Linked DNA regions of Homo sapiens: region 2 is linked to region 1. Evidence: fine-mapped expression QTL. A gene starts in region 1. The other region holds a variant in brackets. All regions are shown on one strand. Distances are from middle to middle.

Region 1 (4,379 bases):
CCTTGGCACCTGTCATTTAAGTCACTGCTCAGATGCTACCTCCTTAGAGGGGCCTTCCCTGATCCCCCTAAGAAAAGCAGCCCCTTCTTTGCATTATTTGCTATCACAGCTCTCTCTTTCCTTCGTGGCCCATTCCCCGGGCTGTTGTGATCAATAGCTGGTTTGTTCAATAGCCATCTTCCATACCCATTGGTGCACTCCCGTAGGGCAGGGACCTTGGGGATCCCATGACCATATCCCAAGCCCCTGCTGCACAATGGCTGCTAAACAAATGTTTGTTGAATGAATGAAGCACAAAAAGTGCCAACAATGCCTGTCTTCCTCCTTGAATACTTCGAGGCCCCATGAGGGAGAAAATGGCACTTACTGGGCACCCGTCACAGCTCAGGCACTCTCATCCTGTTGAATCTCTACATCTGTGACATCCTGTCCCGCTATACAGATGATGAAGTAGGGGCTCAGTGACCTGCCTGAGGTTACCCAGCAAAGGGTGGAATGATGGCTTCATTCCATTGTGAAGTAGCCAAGTGGGACCTGTGAGCATGAAGAATGCCACGCCAAATAATCATCAGGATTCACTTCCAAATCTGACTCCACCCGAAGCCCATGTTCTTTTCATTATACTATACATTCTGCTGTGCCAGAACTCAGCCCAAGATTGACAACCAGGTTTTTAGCTTCTGAAAGGCAGGCAAAGACCCAGCCTGGGTGGAGAGGTGGTCCGGCTTAGTGGTTATTGAAGTGGGTCCTGGAACTGGACAGAGAGACCAGGGCTCACACAAGGACCCCACCACCCAGGCACAGGGCATATTTGCCACAGTTATCATTACCATTGCCAGGCTAGAGCATCTCTGCTCTCAGGAAGAGTGTGCTGGAAGGATAACCGTCAAGGGACACATGGAAAAAGTCAGGGTCTGAGCTTCTTAATCACAGAAGCCCCTGCGCCCCTGGGGCTGGCCTTTGGGTAGTGCCTTCCCCGCTCTGAGTGGTCACCTCTTAAAAACGGGCATGCATACCAGCATAGATCCAAAAAGAGCTCTTGAGAAGATAAAGAGGAAAAATGACTGTGGAGTTGTTGGTGTATATAAAGTAACATGAAATGTAAATTATCTAAAAATAATCTCCCATGTGAAATGCAGAGAGAGGTTGGGGCTTGGGAGACCTCTAGGGTTCTTTCAGCATTTACTGGCACCTACTGTGTGCCAGGTGTTGTGCTAGGGCCTGTGCATATGAGGATGGGTCAGATATGGCCCTGAGCATCTGGAGCTCCCTGTCTACTGGGGGAAGTGAGCCAGGTATACACAGCGTGGGGCTCTCTCCGAGCGCGGTGAAAGGGGAAGAGTTTGTGTGTGATATGGCAGCAGCAGCCAGATGCACATGAGCTGAAACCCACCCCTCCTTCCTGCATGACCTTGAGCAGGTCAGGCCACCTCTCCAAGCCCCAGGTCTTCGTCTGTAAAATGGAGCCATTCCCTCTGCCTCTCAGAGTTGCCAGGACATGGCACGTAGTAGGTCCTGGGGTGGGGGACTTTGGGATGGGAGTAGACAGTAGTTCCTACGCAGGAAACGGTCCTGCACTAGACAAAGTCTGGGCCTCAGGACTTGGATGGTGACTTGCCTGCAGGAGTGTCATGGGGACATGGGGTGGACCCCCGGGGACAGCTGGGAGAGAAGTGCAGCAATTCCTCATGACCTGTTAAGGAAGTGGGGGGTAGGGGCACAGAAATCCTGGGGAATTGGCCTGTGCCTTTATTTATGTTGGTAATTTCATTAAGGGGGAGGGGACCAGCTAGCTCTACCCAAGGTCAGATCTGCCCAGGTAGGAGGGGGGCGGTGGGGCTACCTGAGTTTACTCAGCAAGAGATTCTAGGTCAAGGCGCACTCAGGAAGGCAGGGTGTCTCAGGATGAGTTTGTGGATGTGTTGAGAGTTTTCTGAAGCGGAGGTGGGATTGGGCTGAGGCCACAGGCGACTTCCCAGGGGGCCTGGGCCTGTCCCAGAGCAGTGGGGCAGGCAAGCAGAGGCAAAGCTGGCCAAACTTCGGGGAATTCAGGGTGAGGCAAAAGGAGAGGAAGTTTGGGGGCCCCGAAGGGCGGCGATGTGGGGTTCCCCCAGGGGAACACTGCTCTTCTGGCTTCGGCTCACGGGAGAGGTCAAGTCACTTGCGGGAGCGAGGGAGGGGGAGCCTGCCCTACACCTTCCCGGCCTGGCTAAGTGGGGCGGGGCGGCCGGGAGGTCGGCGTCTGGGCTGGGGTCTGCGCCCTACTCCCCGCGGGACCGCCGCGTCCGGGAGGAGCGGGGCCTGCGAAGCTCCGGGCCCGGCCCGGCCAGACGGAACGCGGTTCCTGGGCTGGGCACTGCGCGCCTGTGGTTCCTGCCCTCCCGGCGGCTGCGGGCGCGGCTGCCCCCGCGCCCCCAGGGGCCGGGCCGGGCGGGGGCTGGGCCCGGCGGGCGGGCGCAGGAGGAAGGGGGGGGCGGGCGGCGGCGAAGGCTGCGCCGCTCTAACAGGTGGGATCCCGCGGCGTGGTGGAGGCGGGCGCGGGAGGAGGAGGAGGAGGAGGAGGAAGAGCCGCGGCAGCGGGAGCCTGAGCAAGAGCAGGATGAGCCGCGCAAGCTGACAGCCACTGCTGCCGCCCGCGCCCAGGCTCGGTCTCGCTCCCAGCGCTCGGGGCCGCTCCCCGCCTCCCGCCTCCCCCGGCCGCCCGCGGGGCGGCCCGCCCCCTCTGCACCTCCGGGCCCGGAGCTGCCTCCATCGCTCCTGCATCCCGGCCGGGGGGAGGAGGAGGCGGAGCAGGAGGCGAGCCGGAGCCGCCGCCGCCAACGCCGCCGCCGCCGCCCGAGCAGGACAGAGCGCGCCGCAGCCCCGCGCGTCCGGCCGCCGCCCGCGCCCATCCAGCAGCCTCGCCGGAGCCACACCGCGGGACAGACGCGGCCGCGGCGCGTCCCGGCCCGGTCCAGCCCAGCCCAGCCCAGTCCCGGCACCGGGCGGCCCGGCGGCCGGCCCGCCCCCGAGGGCGCCGGGCGCGGCGGGAGGATGCCGAAGCCGACGCTGCTGCTGCGCGGGGGCTGGGAGCGCGAGCGCAGCCCCGGGGACTCGGAGCTGGGCCGCCAGTTCCGGGACTGGTGCTTGCGCACCTACGGCGACTCGGCCAAAACCAAGACGGTGACACGCAGCAAATACCAGCGGATCGCCGAGGTCCTGCAGGGCGGCGGCGGGACTGGCGCGGGCAGCGGCCCCGCAGCCGGCGAGAAAGGCAAGTTCCAGTTCTGGGTGCGCTCCAAGGGCTTCCGCCTGGGCAGCGGCCGGGAACCCAAGATGGGCCAAGTGGTGTATGTGCCGGTCAAGACGGGCTCGGTGAGTGCGCGCGCGGCGGCCGCGGGCGGGTCCCGCCGCGGGGCTTGGGGCAGGCGGGCGGGGGCGGGGTGGGGGTGTGGATGTGTGTCCGAACGTGTGTCCCTGAGGTTGTCCGTGTGTCGGGCCCGCCGGAGGCGCACGCGTCCCTGCTCACCGGCCCTTCCCGGCTCGCCTGGGCAGCGCTCCGGGTTCGGGGCGTCCCTGCCCCCCTCCGCGCCGCTGCCCGGGCCGTGGCCGTGCCGGGCAGGCTGTCCCGGGCTGCTCACCCCAGCATGTTCCGTCCTCTTGTCCCCTCCCCCCGCCAGCAGGCGGCTGCTCTGGAGCCCGAGCCTCCCCCCGCCCGCCCCGGGGCTGCCTGTCCCGGGCGCCTCGCGCTCCCGCCCCCGGGCCGGCTGGGCGGTGTGTGTGTGTGTGTGTGTGTGTGTGTGTGTGTGTGCGCGCGCGGAGGGTGGTGCCGCGGGGTGGGGGGGGGGGAGGGAGGCAGGGGCAGCCGCGGGACGGGGAGTCCGCCGGGCCTCCCAGCGCCAGGGGAGGGGGCCCGCCCGGGCACTGTCGCCCCGACCCCACCCGGGGCTGGCCCGGGGAGGGGCGGCCGGAGCCGCAGCCTGGCGCAGGAGCAGCCTCCCGCGGGTGGGTGGGGCGCCCCCTCAGCCCCCCGGGCCCCTCGTTCCCCCTTCATGGGACGGGGGAGGCCTGACCTATCCATCCCCTCCCCTCCCCCGTCCCCCGGGCCGGCCCGGTCCGGGCGGGGTGGCGTGGGGGAGGGGGCGGGGAACCGCAGCCGCCTAAAGGGAGGAGGCGGGCGGCCGGGCGGGGGCGTCCCCTCTGGCCCGGGGCGCCCTGGAGAGGGCGTGCGGCGCGGGCCCCGCGGCTCCCCCGCCGGGACCTCATTGTTCTGCAGAGGGTGGGGGCTGGGGGGGGGGCGGCCGCTCCCGGGGCGCTGCTGAGCTTTGAACTTTCCGTCGCCGAGACCCTCCATTAGTGCGTTCCGCCCCCGGCCCGGTCGGGCCGCGCCGGCCTCCCCC
Region 2 (4,379 bases), 120 kb after region 1:
GTCTCTGCTGCCCACGCAGCCATGGGCTGGGGGCAGGCCCACCCTGCTTTCATCACACTGGGCCCCAGCAGGTTGGCCTCAAGGGTGACCCTCCTGGAGGGGCCTCATGGAAGCAGCAAGATGGGGACCAGGTGGGGACAAGAGGTCACCTGGGCACCCTTAGGTTCCACTTCCAGCTCCAGGTGTGGAGGGTCCATCCAGAACTCCCAGCTTCCCACTGAGCCTCCCAGCTGGAGGCCTGCACCCCGTGAGGCCTGTGTGCTGGGGCTTCGGTGCCCATGGAGCCAGCTGGGTTTCTTCACAGAGTCATAAAGTGCCAGAGCCCAGGAGGGCGTCAGCGGCAACTCCCAGGACTGTAGATAAGAGGAGGCCCAGGAGGTGGCAGTGCCCAAGGTCGCCCAGACTGCAGGACCCTACACCAGCACCATCCCTGCCCGGGCCCCACTGCATTCCATCACAGCAAGGGTTTGTGCGCCTGTCGATGTCTCTTTTAAATCAGTTTTTTTTTTTTTTTTTTTTAAGACAGAGTCTCGCTTTGTCGCCAGGCTGAAGTCCAATGGCGCGATCTTGTCTCACTGCAACCTCCACCTCCCGGGTTCAAGCGATTCTCCTGCCTCAGCCTCCTGAGTAGCTGGGACTACAGGCGTGCACCACCACGCCCAGCTAATTTTTGTATGTTTAGTAGTGATGGGGTTTCACCATGTTGGCCAGGATGATCTCGATCTCTTGACCTCATGATCTGCCTGCCTCTACCTCCCAAAGTGCTGGGATTACAGGCGTGAGCCACTGCGCCTGGCCTAAATCCATTTTTTTTTTAAGGGTTGTGGGAGGAAGAATTCCAATCGGATCAAAACCCAACTGCCCCCAGTCTCTCTTTTCCTTCTTTCCCCAAACAGTGACAGGCGCGTTCTCCTGGCCAGGTGCAGTGAGGGGTGGGTGTGAGGGTTGCAGCCAGCCCCTTCTGTGGGCATGAGCCCTCCTGTGGGCACCACCCCCTCCTGTGGGTACCAGCCTCCTCAGGACTGAGCTGGGCGTCATGGTGAGGTCCCCATGCAGAGCGATCCCAGCCCCCGGGTCCCATCCCTTGGCCTCTGCCAGGGAGAAGACCCTGGACTACTCAGAGACCAAGCCATTGGTGTGAGCCTGCCTCTAGCCGGCCTAACCAATAAGGAAATTATTAGCTCCCTCACCAAAACCTCTAGGGCCTTCCTAGGTGGCAGGCACAGATGGATTTCAGGGGATCATCTGTGCCCCCTATCAGCCCTGCTTTCCCCAGCGTGGGCCTCCCTGCACCACGGGCCCAGCAACCCCAGGTAGAGAGCACCTTCCCAGCCATCGCAGCAGGAGTCCCCGCGTGATGTCCTCGGGCCCAGCTTGGTCACACGCTATTACCAGTTGCTGTGATGGGTTGACTGGCCAGGCCTGGGGCATGCACTCACCCCGGCGAGCCCAGGAAGACTCAGTTGCCCCCACCAGAGGGAGGGGTGTGATCTAGGGGGCAGCAGGAGCCATCCAGGCCCACCCAATACAGCTGCACCAACTCTGGGTCTCTAGGGCTGGGGCCGCTTCTGTGAAGGCTGGGCACAGGCCAGAGACACAATAAACACAGTAGTATTGCAAGGAGAGGATAAGTGCTTGGAAGAAATAGGTAATTTCTTCCAAGCACTTATCCTCTCCTTGCAATACTACTGTGTTAGAGGGGGCTGGGCGCAGTGGCTCACACCTATAATCCCAGCACTTTGGGAGGCTGAGGTGGGTGGATCACGAGGTCAGGAGATCGAGACCATCCTGGCTAACACGGTGAAACCCCATGTCTACTAAAAACATAAAAAATTAGCC[A/G]GGCGTGGTGGTGGGCGCCTGTAGTCCCAGCTACTCGGGAAGCCGAGGCAGGAGAATGGCATGAACCCGGGAGGCGGAGCTTGCAGTGAGCCGAGATCACGCCACCGTACTCCATCCTGAGCAACAGAGCAAGACTCCGTCTCAAAAAAAAAAAAAAAAAAAGAAAAGAAAGGTAGAGGGGTCAGTGTGCCAGAGCAGGGTGGGAGCTGGGCTTACCGAGAAGGTGACCTTTACGCAGAGCCCTGGAAGTGAGGGACTGCGCCAAGGGGACACCCGGGACAGAGTGGAGCAGGAAGAGGGAACAGCAAGTACCAAGGCTGGGTCACAGCTGGGGCGGGTGGGTGAGCCATAGGGGCTCGCTGGAAGGGCCTGGTGGGCCCAAAGGAGGGACCTGGCTTCCAGTTGGAGTAAACTCAGCCCTTGCGGCTGCAGCCGGCATCAAATCCACTGCTTGTGGGGCCGAGGGACAGGCTGGACCAACCCCACCCCGAGCAGCACCTCTGCCCCTGTTGGTTCATGAGGCTTCAGCCCTCGCCCCACCGTCCCTGGGATGGCTTCTGCAGAGCCGTGGCCCACAGCCGGTGCCACGATGGAGATCGGGGCAGGTAGGGAGGGCTTCCCTGAGGTGGTGGTGCTCGGGTTAGCACAGAAGGGCGAGCAGGAGTCGCCGAGAGTAGGGGAGACACCATGGCTCAGGGGCCAGAAAGCTGGTGACACCCCTTCAGAGCCCCGTCTCCTCTGGAGCCCTCAGGTTTGATTTGTCGCTGCTGGAGCATGAGCTCCGAGGGTGGCAGTTGCCCCCATCCCCACAGTGGCCCTCTCACTGGGCCCACCTCAGACTGTCACAGGCTGGGCTCCGGGATCCCCAGAAGCCCCCGTTGCAGTCTGGGAGCCTCGTGCGTCGGCAGTGGGTGAGTTATGATGTGAGAAAATGTGGGGTGCAGGGAATTGGGGTTTCCTTTTGAGCTCCTGCCCCATCTCGGGCACCATCCTCACCTTAGAACCGTGTTTTACGGCTGTGGGACCCACTCTGAAAGGAAACGGAGGCTCCAGAAGGTGGAGTAGCCTCTTCCAGCCACTCCGCGGCTCAAACCTGTGGCCTCCCCAGTCGGCAAAACATGGGCCTCAGGTTGCAGGCAGCCCCCAGAGCATGTGGCGCGGGGGCAGCTGTGTGGGGTGGGGGCTGGCATGCCGGGGCTGCCTGAGCGGAGCTGGGGGTAGGCGAGACCTTGGTGTCACTGGGGAAGGCAGGCTTTCGCGATCCATGTTGTCCCTCTGAGTAGGCTCTGTGTGTGCGGCATGAGAAAATGAGATAATGGCAGATAGAGCCTATAAACTAGGGCAAAGGGGCTGTTTTTGGTCTGGGTTCTGTGTGTGTGGTAAAATGTGTGACATAAAATTTGCCATTTTTAAGTGTACACTCCAGAAGCACTGTTATTTCCACAGCTTGTTCATCCCCCAACAGAAACTCTGCACCCTTTAAGTACTAACTGCCCATTCCCAGCCCGTGGAGCCTCACTGTACCTTCTGTCTCTGTGAATTTGCCTGTTCCAGATGCTGCGTAGAAGTGGAATCACTGAGTATCCTTGTCCGTCTGGCCTGTTTCCCACAGCCTCGTGTTTTTATCATCCACATTGCAGCGCTTATCCAAACTTCATTCATTTTCATGGCTGGATACTATTCCATCGTATGAATAGACCACATTTGTGTACCCATTTACTTGTCGAAGTTTTTAAAAATATAAATAATGGGTTGGGCGCAGTGGCTCACGTCTGTCATCCCAGCACTTTGAGAGGCCAAAGTGGGAGGATGGTTTGAGCCTTGGGAGTTTGAGACCAGCCTGGGCAATATAGCGAGACCTGTTCTCTACAAAAAAAGAAAACTTTAAAAATTAGCCGAGGCTGGGCACGGTGGCCCATGCCTGTAATCCCAGCACTTTGGGAGGCTGAGGCGGGCGGATCGCCTGAGGTCATGAATTCGAGACCAGCCTGGCCAACATAGTGAAACCGTGTCTCCACTAAAAATACACAAAATTAGCTGAATATGGTGGCGGGCGCCTGTAATCCCAGCAACTTGGGAGGCTGAGGCAGGAGAATCGCTTGAACCTGGGAGGTGGAGGTTGCAGTAAGCCAAGATCGCCCCATTGCACTCCAGCCTGGGCAGGAAGAGTGAAACTCCATCTCAAAAAAAAAAAAAAAAAAAATTAGCCAAGCGTCGTGGTGTGCGCTGCTGGGGAGATCGCTTCAGCCCAGGAGGCAGCAGTTGCAGTGAGCCCTAATGGCACCGCTGTACTCTAGCCTGGGCAACAGAGCAAGACCCTAAAAAAAAAAAAAAAAAGTAAACCATGTAACTGAGTCGCCAATATTTTAAAATCTGTTTACATAATGGTGCAGATTTCCAGTTTCTTCTAACAGCTTGGAACACTTGGCCATACGAGGTCCTAGCACCTGGTGCCTTACGGGTCTTACCCGCCCAACCACTTCCCTGGCCAGACCAGGGTGGCATCTGAGTGCAGTTAGGGGAGGTTCTGCCCCGGCACT

What was found. PIP is the estimated chance that this variant, and not a neighbour inherited with it, causes the effect.
Region 2: its variant is the best candidate, but not a certain one, in a credible set for the expression of NOL4L in whole blood (TOPMed, PIP 0.64).

Annotation. Positions count from the first base shown.
Region 1 is chr20:32,583,545-32,587,923 of GRCh38, reverse strand. It overlaps NOL4L (nucleolar protein 4 like), which reads left to right and starts at 2,591. Exons shown (of 11, transcript NM_001256798.2): 1 at 2,591-3,354. The coding sequence starts at 3,034. NOL4L-DT (NOL4L divergent transcript) reads right to left here and starts at 445. Exons shown (of 3, transcript NR_034152.1): 1 at 368-445. RefSeq lists an enhancer at 1,939-2,018 and silencers at 2,209-2,398, 2,619-2,668, 2,729-2,888, 3,029-3,078, 3,419-3,618 and 3 more.
Region 2 is chr20:32,459,044-32,463,422 of GRCh38, reverse strand. All of the region lies in intron 5 of NOL4L (nucleolar protein 4 like), which reads left to right. Among named protein-coding and RNA genes, the nearest start is that of NOL4L-AS1, 100 kb to the left of the region's middle. RefSeq lists an enhancer at 4,090-4,379. The variant A/G (reference allele first, on the strand shown) is at 1,840.